Linked DNA regions of Homo sapiens: region 2 is linked to region 1. Evidence: fine-mapped expression QTL. Tissue or cell type: left ventricle. Region 1 holds a variant in brackets; the other region holds the start of a gene. All regions are shown on one strand. Distances are from middle to middle.

Region 1 (8,108 bases):
TAAAAATAAAGAATAAATCTTGAAGGTAAACAGTTTAAAAAAAAGATGCATATGCAGAGGAACAAAGATAAAAATTATGGCAAACTTCTTGCTGCAAATCATGCAAGCCACGAGAAAATAAAGTGGTATCTTCAATGTGGTGAAAGAAAAACCACTGGACTAGACTGCCAGTTACTGAAGTAACATGCAGGTCCACCATGGGTCCTACTAGTAGTAGTTTGGCTGCAATTCTCTTGGGGGGTTACTGTTTCTAAGTTCATGATATCTATGAATTTCTTTTGGACACAGTTTAATAACTTACTTACAACATCCAATAAAAATAGACATCCCTATCCAATTTTATTCTTTATGTATGAATTCTATATAATTATTTGGTTATAAGCAGGAACGCGTAGCATATGGGCCACAGTATCTTTTTACTCTCCTCAAGTAGACTAATAGCAGCATACACTATATGGACTTACTATGTTCCACCTTCTAAGTGCTTTATATCTATTAAAAGAGACACTGGGCCAGGTGCGGTGGCTTATGAGTACTTTGGGAGGCTGAGGCGGGCGAACCACCTGAGGTCAAAAGTTCGAGACCAGCCTGGAAAACATGGCGAAACCTCGTCTCTACTAAAAATACAAAAATTAGCTGGGCATAGTGGCACATGCCTGTAGTCCCAGCTACTTGGGAGGCTGAGGCAGGAGAATCGCTTGAACCCAGGAGGCGGAGGTTGCAGTGAGCCAAGATGGTGCCACTGCACTCCAGCCTGGACAACAGAGCGTGACTCTAACAACAACAACAAAAAGAGACATTTTATTACTGTTTGCTTGCTAGCCCAAAGAAAATATGCAATAATGGATGCTGTTGATTGTTCTAAACTTTCCTTCTACAACTCAACATATACACGACTTTTCAATTTGAGTAAGAATGTCACTATTAGAATGACCTTGATATGAGTATATACTCAGGACTTTGCTGAGATGTCCCTTTCCTAGACCAGTCTAAAACAGAACGCTCTCTTCCTCTGTGTTTCTCAGTTCTGTTGTTTACCCTAGTTTCTCTTTTTCATAGCACTTATTTCCACATGAAGTATCAATTTTTTTTTTTTTTGAGACGGAGTCTCATTTGCAGGCTGGAGTGCAATGGTGTGACCTCGGCTCACTGCAACGTCTGCCTCCCGGGTTCAAGCAATTCTCCTGCCTCAGCCTCCCGAGTAGCTGGGATTACAGGCGCCCGCCACCATACTCAGCTAATTTTTGTATTTTTAGCAGAGACAGAGTTTCACCATGTTGGTCAAGCTGGTCTTGAACTCCTTGAATTCACTGCCTGTCTGTTGTCAGTCTCCTGCACTAGAACATTTGACCATTGGAACTGTGTCTCTCCTGGTCATTGCTATATCCACAGCACTTACAACAGTTCCTCGAACTAGAAGGAGTTTAGTATGTATTTGTTGAATGGATGCATGAATGAAGGATGAAGTAATATGTGAACAAATAGAAATTCCTTTCACCTGAGGAATCTGGTAGATTGGAGCGGGGAGGAACAGAAGCAGGTGGAAGTTGAATGCCTGCTAGGTGAAAGGTACTTCACTGGGCTTAATCTAGATAATCTAAGATGCTCAGTATAGTTCCTGGAACATTAGCAGTCACTCAGAGTTATTAACTGTAATTAATGACTGTTGATCTTTTGTCATAAATGTGTCTTAATGAACTTGTGAAAATGGTATTATTTTCTAGCTTTGCACATTCAAAAAGATCAAATAACACGCCCAGGTTTACAGAGTTTGGACTGAATCCACCTGGTATGGCAAACACAAGAGCCCATGCCAAGGGGTAGGAAAGAGAATATGGAAATGTTCATCTCCTAAGGACTAAATTATTATCTTTATTTGAATATAAGTAAATGAATTTTAACTACATGTCATCAAACAACAGGTTTTTTCCACTCCAAACATGAGTTTTTGTTGTTGTTGTTGTTGTTGTTGTTTTGAGATGGAGTTTCGCTCTTGTTACTCAGGCTGGAGTGCAATGGCATGACCTTGGCTCATCACAACCTCCGCCTCCTGGGTTCAAGTGATTCTCCTGCCTCAGCCTCCCGAGTAGCTGGGATTACAGGCACACACCACCACCCGGCTAATTTTGTATTTTTAGTAGAGACGGGGTTTCTCCATGTTGGTCAGGCTGGTCTTGAACTCCTGACCTCAGGTGATCCACCTGCCTCGGCCTCCCAAAGTGCTGTGATTACAGGCGTGAGCCACTGCGCCCAGCCCAAATAATGAGTTTTTATTCCTGCTTTCTAAGTTTTTTGACCTGATAGTGACAGTCAACAAGGTAAGAAATGGGCTTTACTAAACTTACAAAGAAAAATCCTGTTGTGATCCCTTCTAAAAACTGCAGGTCCAAACCATAATAAATCAACCCGTGCTTGAAAGCACGAACTGTATATACTGGCACCCTATTCAGCTAAGATAAAAACGACAAGTCCTTCAATGATAAATTGTCCTCTCCATGTTATCCAATGGAAATACTCATATTGTCCAATACCTACAAGCAATTAGAAGGATTTAGTTTAACTTTCAAATTAAAAGACCATTAAAAAGAAACATAGTTCCCCAGTCTGCCTCTGAAAAATATTCAGAAAACCTTCTTGTTCTTAAACTTGGAAGGAATTGGTACTTAGTCTCAGATTTCCTTTTATCACACAGCAATTCAGCCAGCTATTTGGAACTGTGGGTTACAGGAAACAGTGGGATAAAACAGAAAACAATGCAAGATCTTTGAAAAGTTATTTATCAATTATATATTGTCTATCAAGAACACCTAAAACTTAGAGCAACCATCCCTCCACCCACCACCAACAACAAACACCAGGCCTAGGAATAGAGGTATTTAACATCTAACATGATACCTGCATCCCAATCTCTGCCTTCATTATAAAGCTACCCAAACTGGGGGAAAAAAGTGAGCTTAAATAGGTTTTTGAGTGCAGATCCATTTATTTTTCATCAAGTTTGAAGTGTGTTTATTATTCTTCTTACAGAAGTGGTTTTCCTCCTCAATCTATTTACTTACCTATAGGATGTGAGTATAAATTCTATAAGATCTGAAGGGAGGATGTTGATAACTTTCATGAAATAAAGCAACATTAGTTTTCTACCAATAAAACCTGGCAATAAAGCTTAAACTTTCAAAATAAGGAAAAAAAAGACAGAGGAATTTTCATATGTATTTATAACTGCATATTTTAGATTTCTATTTTATATGAATATGTGGTTTGATGTTTAGAAGAGGATTGAATTAATGATCATGAGACAAGAGTCACATAATTAAGGCATTAAAACATACCAGTTTTTGCAATTTTGCATACACACACAGAAAATCAGTGTTCTTATAACATGTATTCTCAAATGAATATTTAAAATTTGTTAACATCCACTAATGAGATCACAAGAAGAGAAAAAAAATTTTTATTCATTTTGTTTATGATGTTTCTATATAATGCTCCTAGTTTTTCAGAGAATTCACTGAGTTTTAAAGCAGATCATAAAATCTAAACCTTGGCTTTTATTATTCAGGTGGCCTCATTTTGCCCTTCATCTTTTTTAATAATTGTCATTCCATCCATTGTTCCTATAGTTCTGCACCTAATTTTGTGAACAGATAAAAGGGGAGCTTTTAGTGGTTTCTGTCCCAAATTCTCTGGCCTATTTCTGCTCTCAGCTTTTATTGCCAAAGGTGTGAAGATCAAAAGATGCTCTTTGCTGATGTGTTTACTTCCTTGTAACAAACCCTCTCACAACAAAGGAGTTCATTATTTACATCTAACATGAAAGAAAAAGTTCCAAAGCCAAAGGCCTGCATCAGACAGATGCCAAGTGATGGAATTTTCTTGCCTCACACTTATGGAAGTTAACATCATTAACACCCAGTTAATCTAAATGTCTTCAAGAGCAAAAAACATATCTTAGGGTAGGGGTAAAGCTCTGGCTTTCCCATGCAGTTCCTTGGCTTTGCCCAT[G/A]CCTTCAATCTTTCCCAACAGGGTGGTGACATGGGCTCATTTCATAAGCACAGAAAGCTCTCGCGACAGCCCATGGAAACATGAACCGTTATTTACTCTGGAAAGAATGACTGGGAGCAGCTGTGCCCAGCAGCAGACAGCACTAGAGGCAGAAAATGAGGCCGTGTCACCAATCTGTTATTATTATAATAACTAATGGAGAGAAATAAAATGGATTACCAGCACTTACTCAAATGGGGACGGGGACGTTTCCGATGCTGCTGCAAGACAGAGGCTTCTCACGGTTTATGATATCATCAGACTTCTTAATGAATTTACAGTCTAGTAATCCTGCCATGGCATTAGTTTTCCACATGCAAATCCCTGGCATCTAAGTCAATTCGGCAAATGAACAAAACTAGGGTACTCTATTGGGTCAAGTTTATTTCAACCTAAGGGAAAGAGATGACTAGCTTTCTTCCTATTCCCTTATCAAATTTATTAAGCCCATAAAAAGACTGGTTTGAATGACATCTTTCCCCACACTTTGCATATCAGTCTATATTTTTATATGTCTGCAATATCACTACCTTATATCTGTCAGAACCAGGTTCCTCTCAATAATATTCGTACTGATTCACTTAACTGCTTAGTCAAACTATATTATAGATACTTAACCATCTTATCCATTTGCTGACTATACTCCATGTCAGTGTGCTAATTTTATGACTAATCCATGTTTCCCAACAAGACTACATATATCTAGGTCAGCAACCAGGTTTACATAATCCTACCTGTACCAAATCCTACCAAAAGAGTATATAGGTGCTTTTTAGAATGATCTATATCCAGAGGCCCCAACGTCATTATTCATTCATTCATTCAAGCTAGGAACCGACTCTGTTCTCTTTTATGGGAATGGTGTTGCAGGGAGAGGACTCCTTTCAGAAGTTTGAGGTTCCGTGTGTATCCTAGACCCTACCATACAGACTCCTGTGAGTCCACAGTGTGAGGTCCTGATGAAAGCAGGTCTAAAGCCACAGTTCACTCAGGTCTCTGTCCCTATACTCTGGTACCAACTTAGATCAGGGAGTGGCTACAAGACAAAAGCTGATGGAGGAAGTGGGAATTTTGGAAGTGAGGCTTAGAGAGGTTAAGCAATACTAACATATTTTCATCTGCATCTCCTGTGAGACCTCATTCCTGAGTCCCATACCAGTATTTCTACCCAGATTCTACAGACATCTCATATTCAACATGTAGAAAAGAGGACTCCTCATCTCTCCTTTCAAATGGACTTCTTTCCTTGTGTGGTGATCTCACTTATGGGTTCCAGCATCCCATATTCTCTTTTTTTTTTTTTTTTGAGATGGGCTCTGTCACCCAGGCTGGTGGGCAGTGGCACGATCTTGGCTCACTGCAAGCTCCGCGCCCCGGGTTCACGCCATTCTCCTGCCTCAGCCTCCCGAGTAGCTGGGACTACAGGCATCTGCCACCAGGCCCGGCTAATTATTTTTTGTATTTTTAGTAGAGACGGGGTTTCACCATGTTAGCCAGGATGGTCTCGATCTCCTGACCTAGTGATCCGCCCGCCTTGGCCTCCCAAAGTGCTGGGATTACAGGCGTGAGCCACCACGCCCAGCCCCCATATTCTCTTAAGAGACACCAAAACCTGCCAATCCTTGCTGTTAAATATCTTGTGAATACAGCCCCTCCTCTTCAATCACACAGGTAGGAGCACTGCCAAGCCCTATTCCTTCACATGAATGACTGCAACAGCTTCCTAACCCATCTTCCCACCTCTAGTCTTTTTCCCTTTAATTGCATCCACACCAACATTTATCTATAATATCCTCACAACATTTTGCTTCTTAAAATCTTTCTGTGGCTGGCTGTAGCAGATAGTATAATGTTTAAGGTCTTTAGAATGGTAAAAAGTCCTTTGAGGTCTATCGTAGCACGCTCTCTTAAGTACTCTACCTCTCTCCCAGCCCAGTTCATATCCCATATACAGAATGTCTTGTCATTTACTGAATGGTTTTCCTTGCTCTTTTTAAACTCTTGTGACCCTGTACATGCAAGGTCTAGAACTATTTTCCTACTTATCTACTAGTAAACTACAAGGAAAGCAGGGATATGCTAGGTTTCAGTTAGGCAAAATGTAGAGAAAGTGTTCTGCAATTAGGTAGAAGTAGTTTGGGAGTGAAAGCGAACACAAATAGGGTGGGGAAGCACAGAGTATGTGAGAATGAGACTTCAAAACTGACTAGTGAACCACATTCATTTCCTTTACAGCATTTATCTCAGTTATTACATGCTTAAGAGGAGTTTGGTCTCATCCACCTCACACACCAGAAGGCCTGAAGGGCAGTGAGGGTAAGGTGGGCATTCCCTATTCAGAGTGATTGCAGCCTCTAAAGCCAGACTGCCTGGGTCTGAAACTGAGCTCCAAAACTTATCAGATGACTTTGGGCAAATTACTTATTATTTCTATGCCTTCACTTTCTCAGCTGCAAAATGATAACCCATTTCAGAAGGTAGTTGTGAGAATGAATGATTTAATGCACGCAAAGTATGAGGTTGAACCATATGAAATTACTATTTTTATATGTCAAAATACTCAAATATCAACAAGTTTATATGGCTTATCCAAATTTTAAGCCAATGCCTAACTGATTATTCCTTTTTATAATGCTTCTAAACCATTACTCCCTAATGCCTCTGATGTAACAGCCTCATTTGTTGAATTTCATATTATCCAATTATCTTTTCTCATTGATGTCCCCCTGCTAATATCCTGGTCCCTCCATAACACTTATTCATGACTAGGGCACTTGGCAACAATCTTTAACATACCCTTTGTGACAATGAGTGACTTCAGTATCCATCTAGACAAGCCATCCAATAAACTATAAATTCCTCACCTTCTTCATCTCCATGGTCACAGATTTCCAAGGTCAAACCCTGCAACTAATTATCTAGTGGGGCTGCTTCCTATCCATTATGTGAAGATGACCACAATCTCTGATCCTTCCAGGCTCCCCGTGCCTTTGCCCTTACTACCTCTGCTCTCCAATCTCTGGAAAACCATAGTTCCTTGACCTCTTTCCTGGCCTCACTGCTTTACCCAGTTGGGATAGCACGGCTCATTACTTCAACCATTCTTTCACTAATATCTTTAGAATCAATTCAAACGTAGACTTCTGTATTTCTGTGACCAATCTGTTGAGCTCAGCTGGAAAAAAAAGTCAGCTTTCAGATTGACGCAACTATATAAATCTGCAGTCCTCAATCTCAAATAGGCCATCAACGTGGCTCAACCTCCTACTCATTCTTGCTTAGCTTGCTCTTATTTTACTAAGCAATGTTACCAAACTGTCATATTGCTCAAGAGCCCAAACAAGGCTACATCCTTCTCTGCAGATGACATCATTTTCTACTTCAATAAGAGAATTATACATACATTATCCCAATATTGTTCCCCTCCCCTTCTTAGATATGCCTGGACCTGTCCTTGTGCACTTTCTTTCAATGACAGGATGAGGTATTCTTACTCCAGGTCAAGATCCTGCCCTGCCCTCCACACATGGCCCCCCTTTTCAGCACTCCCAGGACCGAGCTCCATTAATTATCCCCTTTACTTCCTAAATCTTTAAATTCTCAGTGCCTATTTACTCTTTCCTCTAAGCCCAGAAACCCATTTAAATCTTTTATCAAATGAATTTTTTTTTCTTTTTGCTTCTTGAACCTGGGTTGCACCCCAGAAACCATACCCTTCCTTCTCTTCTAAGGCAAGTGACTTGAAAGAGAGGTTTGTGCTAACCCTTCTCAACTTTCTTACCCTACCCATTTACTTTAAAACAAGACACAATGTCATTCTGCCCTGGCCACTGGACTGAAACTTCTCTGATGAGACACCAGTGAACTCCATAATGCCACACCTGAGGAAAATGTATCAATTCTCTCCTCTCATTTTTTCTTATTTCTCTGTTTTTTCCTTTCCAGTCTCCCTCATGGGTTCCTTGTCTTTTGTTTGCTTCTTAAATGTCTGTATTACTCAAGGCTTCACCCATGGTAATTTGTTCATTCTATATATTCTCCTTGTGCAATTTCATTTGCTCTTG
Region 2 (8,108 bases), 160 kb after region 1:
AACATCCACCAAACACCAATTAAGTGCCAGGTCCCATGTTGAGCTCCAGTGCAATGTAGAACTCTAGCACAAAAATGACAGGTTTTAAAGAGCCATGAAAACTTTGTTACATACCACATCTAAGAAGACATGATAACAGCCAAAAAATAGTACAGTTCCTTAGACAGACAACAAACAGATAGGCACATTAGATAGATGTTATAAACCATGTACAACCAACAAGTATTTGTAAGTGACTGAAATCTTCCACTGCCTTGCTACCATGGATGTCAAGTGGGAACAGATTATAGCAAAAATGTTTATTTTTATAGGCAGGTAGCATAATCCACAACAGGAATAAAAGCACCAATACAACTATCTTTCCTTTCTCTGATTTAACATATTATTTCTCCTTCAACTTTCAAAACAAAACATAATTCACATACTTTAGGCTGAAACAACAATTGAATACATTTGACATCCCTATCAAATAACTTAAGTAAAGACTTCAAGAAGGCAGCCAGGTAAGTAAGCCTTGTGCTCTAGGATCAAGGCTAGATCCCATCAACAAAAGAAGAATCAGGAAATCTGTGGTTCAGCTGTGATTTCTTTTGAATTAGAAACGCTGTACAGATTACAATTAGGCAAATTGCCAGTGAATAATCAAGGATATTTCAAATAAAGGCATATACTTACTTTGCTTAAGAGCAGCGAACAAAGCAAAGGCCTCTGATAAATTTAATGCCAGCAATTTTCAAAGCTTAGTCTTGGCCGGGTGCGGTGATTCACACCTGTAATCCCAGCACTTTGGGAGGCCAAGGCGAGCAGATCACTTCAGGTCAGGAGCTCAAGACCAGCCTGGCCAACATGGTGAAACCCCATCTCTACTAAAAATACAAAAATTAGCTGGGGGTGGTGGCAGGCTCCTGTAATCCCAACTACTCGGGAGGCTGAGGCAGGAGAATCGCTTGAACCCAGGAGGTGGAGGTTGCAGTGAACTGAGATCGCACCACTGTACTCCAGACTGGGGGACAAGAGTGAGACTTCGTCTCAAAAAAAAAAAAAGGGTTAGTCTTATGGCTAGAAGGAATGTAAGAAGTAGAGCAATCTTAGGCACTCCAACACACTGTCTTCATGAGAATTCTGGCAACTTAGATGAAGGAGGCTGTAGCGATTTAAAGTTTTACTAGATTCAGTGTTTAAAACTGTTGGGGGCCAGGCACGGTGGCTCACGCCTGTAATCCCAGCACTTTGGGAGGCCGAGGTGGGCAGATCACGAGGTCAAGAGATCAAGACCAGCCTGGCCAACATGGTGAAACCCCGTCTCTACTAAAAATACAAAAATTAGCTGGGTGTGGTGGCGGGCACCTGTAATCCCAGTTACTTGGGAGGCTGAGGCAGGAGAATCGCTTGAACCCAGGAGGCAGAGGTTGCAGTGAGCCGAGATCGTGCCACTGCACTCCAGCCTGGGCGACAGAGGGAGACTCCGTGTCAAAAAAAAAAAAAAAGAAAAAAAAAACTGTTGGTTGGTAAAACCCTAAAAAAGATGATCTTTAAGGGCTCTTTACAGATTATGATACAAAGGCCCAGAGAAGTCACAAAGTAGTAGCGGGAAAAGCGTGACTTTCAAAATCAATCACACTTGACTAAACTCTTCCCAGACCTCTTCTTCAATGTGTGTTCCTAAGAACACGACTTAACTTTTTTCTGTTTCTTCACCTATACAAATGAAGAGAATACTTACCTTTTCGGGATGTTATGAAAGTTAAATCAATTCATATTTATGAAGACATTTGTCACATAATAGATACTCAATACATGTTGACTGCCTTTCTTCCAACGGATGAATAACTTGAAAGTCACACAGCTAGTGAGGACTAGAACCAAGAATTGGGATCCCCTTCACCACTCAAACAGAATTCAACTATTTCTTAAATGGCCTCTGTTCATCTTCAATCATATCATAAAATAGAGCTTTTTAACACCTGAGTTGGGAGGGGTAGTTATTAAAGTAAATGTGGAACACCACAGGGCTGCAAAAGAGTCAGGAAGTTTAATCAAGGAAATGTTGTATTGGCTACCTTTCTAAAAATGACATCTGCTTAGTTTGTACCTGAAGGCTTGACCTTCCGGAAACAATGCAACAAATGAAGTTGGTTATTTTTAATGGATATTTCACAACTAGTATTTCAAGATTGTTTGCAGCAAATAGGTATCAAGTGTCTAACATGTGCAGGGCCCTGTGGATGACAGAAGTATGAATCTGACTTTGGCCCTGTCTTCTCTTGTAGAGAAAAGAGGCAGACCTTGAGGAGTGATAAAAACCAACCAACCAATAATTGCATGGTAGGTGTGATGGAACTTAAAAAGTTCAAGGCTAGCCTGACATGGGGGGTCACTTAACGCTACTCTACTTGGGGATGAAATGCCCACTGCATCAGGAGTTGGTAAACACAGCAGAGCATAGTAGAAACTATTCAAATTGTGTTAACTGAATTCTAGTATTGTTTCTGAAAGGAGCTAGCTTTGTGAACTTGTCAAGTTACTTGACATCTTTAGGTTATGTTTCTCATCTGTAAAATAAGTGAGTTCAAAGGATGATCTCTATTTAAGCCTCCTTCCAGTTCTACTATTCCAAATTCCATGATAATGATGATGACCACAAGAAATACAGTAACTTATATTTACCACACATTATATGTCAAGCACTATGCTAAAGTGCATTACTGTACTAACTTCACTTAATCTTCACAACTTTACGAAATGGACATTATTGTTATCATTATTTTACAGATGAGGAAAAGGAGGCTAAACAGTATCAGAATACTGGAGTCGTGATTTGAATGGAGGGAGTCTGAAGCAGCAACCCCTGCTTCTGACCTCAGTCTGAATTGAAAGCAGTTCATGGGTCACCCTTAACCATCATACAAAGTTGCCTCTCTTCACAAAAACTGTCTTATCCATTCTCAAGAAATAAGGAAAAGAGAAAGCTTGTGGAAAGGATCCTTCCTGGCTGGCAGACAGATCTGAGTTAATGTCACAGCTGTCTGTTTCACGTGTTAAAGAATCTCTTGCACCATTTTCCCCGAGATGCTTGCGCGCTCCCAAGGCGGTGCACACCCCTGCTGGGCAAACACCGCGATCGCCAGAAGCGACCAGGGCTGAGGCGCACGGAAGGGCTCCGGGAGAGGCCCCGTAGGAGCGCGGGCACAGAGTGGGTACCTGGGCTGCTGCCTGCTCCAGTCGGCTGGTTCTCCCACCACTCGTCTCCGAGATCGTCTGCCATTTCAGCTCAGGTCTCGACGTGGGCAGAACATCACGGGTAGGCGACCAGCTGCGGAGAATCACGTTGTCTCAAAGCCAGGCGGCCGGCGTAGCTACACGCGGAGCTCCCGCTAGACACTGTCGCCTCCGCCCCGCGGCGATGACGTCACACCTCTGCCCCGCCTCTCCGGCAGCCGCTCCCAGACTCGTCGCAGTTTCCACACAGGCGCCGACAGGCAGAAGCAGTTTGGAAACGCAACATAAATCCCCCCAAAGCTTAAAGACAAAAAGGAACATAAGACGAAAGGGATTGTCATCGTTTTTGATAATGCATTTTAAAAAATTTTGTTTACGTGTTACGTTTCCCGATAAGATTGTGTCGAAAGTGTGAGACACCATGTGAAGACGATTTTTCTCCGCTCAGTTTCAAAGAACTTGCGCAGCGGGAGAAGACCCAAACATGTGCGTGTGTTTTCGCTTGTGCGTCAGTGTTTCAGAGTTTATGTGTTTGTACAGTTTGCTCTTAGAAAACATGCGCAAGGATCCATGACCATGAATGTCGGGCCTTTGTGGTAAATGTAGTTCTGCTATTTATGCAATATGAGTAAAGAAAATGTAATTGGCCTGGAAAGGCTCGCCCACAGAAAGACGCAAGTGGCTCGAAGACCCGCAAGTTGTTTTCCTCATACTCCCTCGGTTGTGTGTCCCACCCCCTATTTGGGAAACGAAGTAATAAGGGAGTCCATTGCTTCGTAACTATAGGTAAGAGACCCGCAGTGCCTCTTGTCTCAGTCCCAACGTGATTTGGCAGGGAGGGACTAGGAAAACCCGCTGGGCGCCAAGTGCTGGGGCTAGCTGTGAAGTAATTGTGGACGGTATTTTTCAGGACATCAAACACAGACGTAAAAATTATACAAAATGTAGTAAAAGCACGCAACGTGCCTGGTACTATGCATGGAATAGTAAGATGAGTCCATTCAGATGTTAGCCTACAGTAGTGGAAATTCAATTTGTAGGAATAAAGGGCTAGACTTCTAATAGGATACATCCTCGGAAATGACAAGACAGGGAAACTTAATCTGATGAGGCTAGGATTAGCCATATGTGGAAAATTACCCCGTGTGCACCCAACTCATAGATGTTTTATAAATGCATTACTGCCTAGACTTTGTCCGCACACTCTAAATGCCCCAAAAGGGAAGATATTATGTATAAATATGGCAAATGTAAAATAATCTATAAAGATCAAAAGTAATATGGCTTTTGTGAAGAAATGTAGATGACGAGATTTTCGTGATTAATAGATTTTTGAAAAAGATAAGAAATGCCAGTGTGGAAGAGGAGTTGCTATGGCTAATAAACATGAAAAGAATTCAGTCTGATTATTAATCTGGGAAATACAAAAAAAACACCACAGCGAGACCGTTTTTCAGGCAATAAATCACAAAATTAAGAAGTATGGGCCGGGCGCGGTGGCTCAAGCCTGTAATCCCAACGCTTTGGGAGGCCGAGGTGGGTGAATCACCTGAGGTCAAGAATTCCAGACCAGCCTGGCCAAAATGGCGAAACCCATCTCTACTAAAAATACAAAAATTAGCCGGGCATGGTGGCAGGCGCCTGTAATTCCAGCTACTTGAGAGTCTGAGGTAGGCGAATTGCTTAAACCCGGGAAGTGGAGGTTGCGGTGAGCCGAGATGGTGCCATTACACTCCAGCCTGGTTGACAAAAGCGAAACTCGGTCTCAAAAAAAAAAAAAAAAAAAAAAAAAAGAAGTCTGGCAATACTAAATTATGGAGTGTCTATGCATTAATGGGAATTGATACCTGTTTTGTACCATGAACTATGAATGGTCTTACATTATATTCCACCTCGCCTCAGCCTCCCGAGTAGCTGGGACTACAGGCACATGCCACCATTCTTGGTTATTTTGTTGTTGTTTTTGTTTTTTGTAGATATGGCGTCTCATTTTGCTGCCCAGGCTGGTCTTTAACACCTGGCTTCAAGCAGTCCTCCCACTCCAGCCTGCCAAAGTGTTGGTATTAGAGGCCTAAGCCACTGTGTCCAGCCATTTTTTACATTTTTAAAGCATTGTAAGAAACAGAACAAAACAACAACGACAACAACAAAAACGTAAAGAAAAATATGCAGCAGAGACTGTAGCCCTCATATATTTACTATTTATTACTATTCCCTCATATATTTGCTCTAACTTTACAGAAAAAAGTTTACTGACCCCAGATTATATTGAATAGCCAACCTAAGTTGTAGCATCCATTTCTGTTCTGTTTGTTCTGTTATTAGTGAATTGGTTATTAGTGAATAGGCATCCTGGTTTATAAATCAGTGTATTGTAAAACCGTACTCTCCAGTATCTGATCATATCATCTAACACAGGGAAGCTCAGGCTGAAATAACTATTAGGTCTTTTTCTGCTCCCTCTTACTGTTCAGTATCTGAATGAGTATTATTAGAGTTTAAAGGAGGAAGCATTCATTTCCCAATGGGGCGAACTGGGAGGTAGCACTTGACAATGGATGTCTGTCGGCAAAAATGGATAGGGTAAATGATAGTTCCTTGGCAGAAAGATTGCAATGTTGCTTTGAATAAGTTATTAAACTTTGCTGGGCATTTCTTTGTGAGTCTGTAAAATAAAGGGGAGCAATTTCATGATTCCTGTGGTCTCTTCCAACTCCATGCCTTAATCTTGAGTATCAGACCAAGAATTCTGGATTTTTGTCGTTGTTATTAGAGGCAAAGGACATGATGGAAGTATTGTTTTAGGAAAGCTAAATTGGTATTACTGTGCAGGATGAATAATGGATTTGAGCAGAGCTTCCCACCTGGCATGGGTGGGCTGAAGACTGACCCCTGCAGTCTTTGGAGGAAGCAGTGACCTTGGGGCAGTTGCCTCAGGTTGAGGGTATCATCATCTTTTCACTCTAGTGTTGTACAGATATTACCATTTTCTATGGATGCCATGATGTGAAAGGTTGGCAAAAACTGAATTAGTAAGAGAGCGATAAAGTTTGAAGGCTGTTTCGTGAATGCTCACCACACAATGAAAAGGTCTTAATCAGTGCAGAGGTTCTTAGTCAATAAGCCCAGCCTATAAGTGTACTTCAGGAACCATCATAATGCATTCAAACTTTTGCATCATGTAGACAATAATGGTAGTAACAATATCAACAATAGCATGTTGTATGTACCTCTCTATGCCTCTTATATCTTAATTCATTTAATCATAACTCCATGAGATACTGTGCTGGGACTAGGGTGAGGCAAGCAGAGACCTAGGATACCAGATTTAAGGAGGCAGTCACTCTCAGGCTGACACTGACACCGACCTGAGAATGCTTGTCTCACTTGAGTCCTGACGCTGGTCCCTTTACTGAAGGCCACAGCTCTAGTTCAGCAGCTCTCCTCAATTCTTTCTTCTGAGTCTAGTAACTTGCCTTTGTCTCTTCAGACTTAGGAGTGGTAACTGCTCCCCACCATTACTAGTCCTGGGGTTCTACACCACGTTTCATTTCCCTAACCTGACCTCATGTTCAGAAATACTCCCCTTACTAAATTATTTTCAGTTTTCCAGCTTAAATGGGTCATCTTTTGCATGGTAGGACCCCAACTGATAAAATCAACTGCCTACTTAGGGTTCCCCTCAAAGCAGAGCCTGTGACAAAGGCTTGGGTGCAAATAGTTTATTTGGGAGGTGATACCAGGATGCAGGAATAAAGGCAGAGAGAATGAGACAAAGAAGGAGGATTGATATTAAACTGGTTTTGATGTAGACAATGACTGGCTCTTTATCCTCTTGAAGACCCTCTGAAAAAAATAGGATATACCCCAGAATTAGCCTCACAAAGTGATACAGGAGTTAAGAAGAAATTACTTAGACACATAGTAAGGGTATGGGAGTCCTCAGTAAGGCTTTTCTTTTTAATGAAAAGCAGCCCCAAATAATTTTCTAACAAAGAGCAGCCTGCAAGCTGGGAGCTTACACGAATGAATGCTGGCAGGAACTAAGGACTAGACATGTTCAAATGGCGCCTCCGTTTTCCCTTCTCTGCCAGCCACGTGTACTGCAAGGAGCAGGCAAGATGGCACTGATCAACTGGAAAGTCCATTTGCATAATAAGATTAGGGTGGAGTGACCAGCCTTCCCCGTGTGCTATGAAAACATCATACCTGGTCGAACCAATCTGTGAGCCCTATGTAAATCAGACACCACCTCCTCAAACTGGACTAGAAAATTCGGCACTTTCCGCCACCAGCCAGTCTTTTCTGCTTGGAGACCCCTTTCTCTATATAAAGAAGAGACCTCTTTTTCTTCTCTTCTGCCTGTTAAATGTACGCTCCTAAACTCCTCGTGTGTGCCCAGGTCCTAAATTTTTCTGGTGCACAACGATGAACCCCAGGGTATACACCCCAGACAACATAGCATCTTCAAAAGGACAGAAGGCTAGGACACTTATCCACTGACTGTCATCTACCATTGAGTGAGGGTTGTTGCCAGGGTTATGAATTGGCAGATATTCCCAGGCTGTGCTGCTGTTGGAGAAAGCCCTGAGGCAGAAGAGTAGAGCAGTATACCTCAGCTCACTTGAGGTGGGATAATGACAGTGTGCCCAGAACTTTCCTCCATGGCTGAGCCAATTTCAAAATGAGCTAAGGGGCATAAAAAGCATCTGCTCCAGGTTTATACTGTTTTTCTTTCCATTTTATAGATGGTGAAACTAAGGCACAGAAAATTAAGTAACTTGCTGAGTTACTAGTAAGTGATTTCCCATCTGCCCCATGACCTTCATACACTCCCAATGTGGTCTGTGTCCCCAAAATAACCCACAGTCACTGCACTAGGGTAACAA

What was found. PIP is the estimated chance that this variant, and not a neighbour inherited with it, causes the effect.
Region 2: it holds the start of CMSS1, and the variant in region 1 is fine-mapped to the expression of CMSS1 in left ventricle (GTEx, PIP 0.99).

The regions. Positions count from the first base shown.
Region 1 is chr3:99,968,576-99,976,683 of GRCh38, reverse strand. All of the region lies in intron 1 of CMSS1 (cms1 ribosomal small subunit homolog), which reads right to left. All of the region lies in intron 1 of FILIP1L (filamin A interacting protein 1 like), which reads left to right. The region is part of intron 1 of LOC105374010 (a long non-coding RNA gene); the gene reads right to left. Among named protein-coding and RNA genes, the nearest start is that of MIR3921, 8.2 kb to the right of the region's middle. The variant G/A (reference allele first, on the strand shown) is at 4,006.
Region 2 is chr3:99,813,137-99,821,244 of GRCh38, reverse strand. It overlaps CMSS1 (cms1 ribosomal small subunit homolog), which reads right to left and starts at 3,383. Exons shown (of 10, transcript NM_032359.4): 1 at 3,202-3,383. The coding sequence starts at 3,265. HP09053 (a long non-coding RNA gene) reads left to right here. Exons shown (of 3, transcript NR_110821.1): 2 at 2,271-2,325; 3 at 2,773-4,613. LOC105374010 (a long non-coding RNA gene) reads right to left here and starts at 3,383. Exons shown (of 5, transcript NR_189163.1): 1 at 3,202-3,383. RefSeq lists enhancers at 3,117-3,426, 2,658-3,532 and a silencer at 2,948-3,702.